Linked DNA regions of Homo sapiens: region 1 is linked to region 2. A link means that fine-mapping ties the variant in region 2 to the expression of a gene that starts in the linked region. Tissue or cell type: atrial appendage. Region 2 holds a variant in brackets; the other region holds the start of a gene. All regions are shown on one strand. Distances are between the middles of the regions.

Evidence for each region. PIP is the estimated chance that this variant, and not a neighbour inherited with it, causes the effect.
Region 1: it holds the start of PRKCI, and the variant in region 2 is fine-mapped to the expression of PRKCI in atrial appendage (GTEx, PIP 0.99).

The regions. Positions count from the first base shown.
Region 1 is chr3:170,220,739-170,223,425 of GRCh38, reverse strand. PRKCI (protein kinase C iota) reads right to left here and starts at 1,002. Exons shown (of 18, transcript NM_002740.6): 1 at 656-1,002. The coding sequence starts at 756. RefSeq lists a silencer at 642-931 and enhancers at 1,112-1,271, 1,282-1,341, 1,412-1,471.
Region 2 is chr3:170,004,092-170,006,778 of GRCh38, reverse strand. No RefSeq gene overlaps it. Among named protein-coding and RNA genes, the nearest start is that of GPR160, 33 kb to the left of the region's middle. The variant TTTTAAG/G (reference allele first, on the strand shown) is at 1,050.

The DNA of each region.
Region 1 (2,687 bases), 220 kb before region 2:
AACACTGAGAAAGAAAGGCTCACAAAATTTTGATTTACACACATGCAACTTAATCTTGACGACACGTAAGTACCCACTGCACGTCCCTGAAAACGCATCGACTTGATTCTTAAATACAACCCCTATGTCTAATATACTGGCAGTGCAGATACACTACGTGAACACAACGGGGATGGAGGTATATCTCAGAGAACCAGAGGCGTTAGGCCTGCTGGTAATCAAAACGGACAGCTAACTGAAGAAGTCCCGTTTTCTATCCCCACAGCAAACTGAGTTAACTAAGGCATCACTTGGAATCCTCAACTCGCAACCCCAAATACACCCAGACTTAAGGATGCAAGGCCCCTACAAAGCTCTCAGGAGGCGAGTCTCTCGTCCACACCAGGTGCACCTACTCTAACCCTAGCTTCCTTCTCGGACCCTACTCTGGCCCCTCGGCTCCCCGCACCGCCATACCTGGGGGCGCCCCCAGTACTGCATCCCCTTGCTTCGCCCCCACCCCTATCACTTCGTCACTCACCCTGAGTCACCGGAGCCGCCCGCCCGCCCAGCCCAATCCGCCCACAACACCTCCAGCCCCTCACCCTCCCCTCCTCCAGGCCGAGTGGAGCCGGCCTGTCCCCTCCCGCCCACCGCCCTGTCCCAGGACACTCACCCGCGGTAGTAGGCTTTCACCCGGACCTGGTGGGAATGGTCCCCGCTGCCGCCGCCTGCGACCGTGTGGGACATGGTGCTGCTGTCCCTCTGGGTCGGCATCTCCTCACTCCCCCGCCTCAACGCTGGAGGCCGGGGGTGCGGGGGGGCGCTTCGGGCGCCGTGGGGGACTCCGCCGCCTGCGCTTGCCGGAGAACCGCGGCCGTCCGCCCACCTACCTGCCCACCTCGCCCGCAGCGCCGACCCAAGGGTCGCCTCGCCGGAGCAGCCGGAACCGCGCGGCTCCTCCCACTGCCCGTAGGCGCCGCCGCCTCTACAGCCGCCCGGGCCCAAGACACCTCCTGCGTCGGTCCCTCCCACTTCGCTCGCTCCAAAGGCCCACATTCCGGGGTAGGGCGGGCGCAACCATCCAGCCAGCTCAAGGAGCCTCAATACCGGGCTGAACCATCCTTACGGGGGCAGAGAAAGGGGACAGAGGGAATGGGAGACGCTGATCATGGCATCAAACACGCCGAGAGGGGTGCTTTCACGCGAGCTGTGAAAGAGACAATGACCAGCTCTAGATCACTAAAGTCTCTTCCCTGCAGGGACAATGGTAGGGACAAATTCTACGACACCTCACCCTAGCCTCGCAACTTGGTCACGTCTGCGGTCGGCCGACTTGGCACCCGGGATAGATTTGCGTGCAGGTTTCTGGGATTTGGAGTCCTCATAGGATTCTGGGACTTGAGGTTCCTTGCGCGTAGGGTGCCGCGCCTTCCCGCTGGTGAAGTCTGTCTCTCCAGCGTGCTCCCTGGAGCTGTCGGGGTGGAAAACCTGGATCCAGCTTGGGCATCTGAAGGTCCTGGAAATGACTGGGCTTCCTCACGTTCTAGACTTTATTAACTGATGAAGTCTCCCTTCTTCTAATTGCATAAATCGTCTGAATTATACATGTCTTTTGGGGGAACAAGAATTTGGTTACCTGCTCAGCATAACCTCTTTTATGGAAATAATTTAATAACATATGTAACAAATATAATAAAGGAAGAAACTCAACCAGAAAATATGATGAAAAACCGATTTTTCTTCTTTGGGGGCCCCCATATCTAGGCCCTTGTAGACTGCCCTTGCATGGAACAAGAGCCCAATGAATACTTACCCAATCAAGTCAGTCAATCCAAGAGCATTTCATTCTGTAAAAACTGGCTTACCAAAGATTAGAAAGAATCGTCCTTGGCCGGGCGCGGTGGCTCAAGCCTGTAATCCCAGCACTTTGGGAGGCCGAGGCGGGCGGATCACAAGGTCAGGAGATCGAGACCATCCTGGCTAACACGGTGAAACCCCGTCTCTACTAAAAACACAAAAAATTAGCCGGGCGTGGTGGCGGGCGCCTGTAGTCCCAGCTACTCGGGAGGCTAAGGCAGGAGAATGGCGTGAACCAGGGAGGCGGAGGTTGCAGTGAGCCAAGACTGTGCCACTGCACTCCAGCCTGGGCGACAGAGCAAGACTCTGTCTCAAAAAAAAAAAAAAAAAAAAAAAAAAAGAATCGCTCTTGTAACCTAGTCTTTGACTTTCCTAGGATCTTGGCTCTGACACATAATTTACACTGCAACTACAGGTAGCATGAATCCAGCCCCTGCAGCAGTCCTGGTGCTGAAAGAGTTGGAATAATCAAAGAAATAGCTTTCTTTACGATGATAAAATAGGCTTGGGGGACTGAGTCATCAGTTATGTGTGACACTTCAGCGTGGTACGACATCCTCCAACTGCTACAGACTTGGATTATATACTCTTACTAAAAATTCCCCTTGAGTCAGGCAAAGTGCTACATGCCTGTAGTCCCAGCCTTTGAGAGGCTGAGGCTGGAGGATCACTTGAGCCCAGGAGTTCAAGGCCAGCCTGAGCAACATGGTGAGACCCCATCTCTTAAACAAACAAAAAAATCCCATTGAAAAACTTGGTATCAGGTTTTTCAGTAATTGGAGACCTGCATCAGCAAGTTTAATACGGAGCGATTAATTATGGAATATATTATAAAATATACGGGCACC
Region 2 (2,687 bases):
TTGCATCTGGTTGTCCCATTTTAACATAACATATTCAACACTGAACTACCAAACTAGATGCTCTTCTAAAGTCTCACAGTTTTCTTTTGGTCCATCTAGTTGCTCAGGCCAGAAACCTGGGATCACCCTAAATTCTGTCCTCTCCCTCTCCACAATCCACCTTTGCATCCTTTATCTTCTTAGTTATTCCTGCATCCACCCCATCTCAACCCCGCCTACTACCACTCTCCTCCTGAGATCATAAAGGTCTAAGCTAATTGAGAAGCAAGATGGTAGAGTCAAGAGACTTTTAACATACTTTAGTAAGTAAAGGATAATTTTGAGGTAGAGTGAAGAGACTTTGGTGACTAATATACATGCGTGGGGACTCAGGATGACTGAATTTTTAGCTGGGTCAGCTGTGACTTAGGGTCAGAAAGGGGAGCAGGCCTGCAGGGATGGAGATTAAAGTTCCATTAAAGTTCCATTTGGACATGTTAATATTGAGGTGCCCATGGGACTGAGACTCATAGTGAAAGTCCAGGTTGGAGCAAAAGATTGAGGGTCACATTTGAAGCAAAGGAAATGAATGTAATTACCCAAGGGAGTGTTTCAAATGAGCATGTACCAAGGAAGGAGTTTTGGAGACTCAAAGTTTCAGGAGCAAATAGAGAAGAAGGAGTGGCCAGAAGTAAAAAAAAAAAAAGAACCAGGAAAAAAGCCATGTCCTGGATGCTGAAGGAAGAAAGAATTTTATTTTATTATTATTCTGAGACAGGGTCTCCCTTTGTCACTCAGACTGGAGTGCAGTGGCAGGATCATGGCTCACTGCAACCTTGACCTCCTGAGCTCAAGCTATCCTCTGCCTTAGCCTCCTGAAGTAGCTGAGACTACAGGTGTATGTCACCATGCCAGGCTAATTTTAAAATTATTTTTGGGAGAGAGGGGGGGTCTCACTATGTTGCCCAGGCTGGTCTTGAAGTCCTGGGCTCAAGCAATTCTCCTGCTTCAGCCTCTCAAAGTGTTGGGATTACAGGTGGGATCCACCACACCAAGCTTGGAAGAGATAA[TTTTAAG/G]AAGGTGAGAGGTGAAGGTTTGGATGCTGATGGTGAGGAACGATGCAGGGATAAAGTGGGATAAAGGCTGAAAAGAGGTTATTTGGCTCAGCAGTTGGGTGAGTTTGTACTCATTCAAATATTTCACTATTTGGGGGACTCTGCCTCTCACTAAGAATCTGAGAGGTAGCCGGGCACGGTGGCTCATGCCTGTAATCCCAGGACTTTGGGAGGCTGAGGCGGGCGGATCACGAGGTCCGGAGATCGAGACCATCCTGGCTAACACGGTGAAACCCCATCTCTACTAAAAATACAAAAAAAATTAGCCGGGTGTGGTGGCAGGCACCTGTAGTCCCAGCTACTGGGGAGGCTGAGGCAGGAGAATGGCATGAACCTGGGAGGTAGAGCTTGCAGTGAGCCGAGATGGCACCACTGTACTCCAGCCTGGGTGACAGAGCAAGACTCCATCTCAAAAAAAAAAAAAAAAAAGAATCTGAGGTGAGGGTAAATACTTCTTTTTTTCTGAATGAGAAGCCAGACCCCTTGATCCAAGCTCAACCAGTGGATGCTGCCATGGAGGACTTTGACTCTTGGAAGAGTGATGCAAAGAGTTGGGGCAGTCAGACCAGTCAAGGCAGAGGTGCAGCGAGAGGATGCAACAGCAATGAAGACCTAAGTAGCTTGTTCTGGTGGCTGGTCCTGGGCTGTCGGATATTTCCTGGTTCCTTTCTGTTTTCTAAGCTTTCTTTTCCAGCCTTCCTTTCAATCTTGGGAGCCATTTGCACCCTTCCCTAGAAAATCCCATTTCTGCTTCCTCTAGCCAGAGCTGGTTCAGTTCTTTGCAACCAAGAACTCTGAGATGTACAGAGATCTCAGCAGGAGTAATTTCAGAAGTTGGGTACAGGAACCAGCTTGCAGTGGGTTAAATTGAAGTGGAAAATAAGAATTATTAAAAAAAACAAGGAGCGATATGAGAATGCTTGGACACAGGGCAGGGAACATCACACACTGGGGCCTGTCAGGGGTTGGCGGGGCTGGGGGAGAGATAGCATTAGGAGAAATACCTAATGTAAGTGACGAGTTGATGGGTGCAGCAAACCAACATGGCACATGTATACCTATGTAACAAACCTGCACGTTGTGCACGTGTACCCTAGAACTTAAAGTATAATAATAATAATTAAAACAAAAACAAGGAGCGAAGGGAGAGAGAAAGGCACCTAAGAGAGAAGCAAGGCGGACAAAAGTTAGTTGTTGGAAAGGGAGGTCAGCAGGGCAGAAACCAGTGAAAAAAGCCACCAGAGTAAATTTCTTCCTCGCCTTGACATTTAAGGTCTCCTACAATATGATCCTTACTTGGGTTTCTAGACTCAACCCCCAATATTCCCTATGATTAAGCCACTCAGGACCCTTCATATTTTCCACAAAATGCCCCATTGTCTCTTTTGGTTTGCTTGTTTGTTTTTACTCAGGATATAACCTTGGCCTGAGGTGTGCCCACAGATTAGCCTGTCGATCCCACTGGTCCTCAAAGGCCTGTTTCTGATCCCTCAAATGAAGTGATTTCCTCTGACTTTAAAATTCCCAAGGCAACTCATACCTCTCTTATCATCTTAATCAGATCATGTCCTTGAATTATATGAGCTGCTTCCT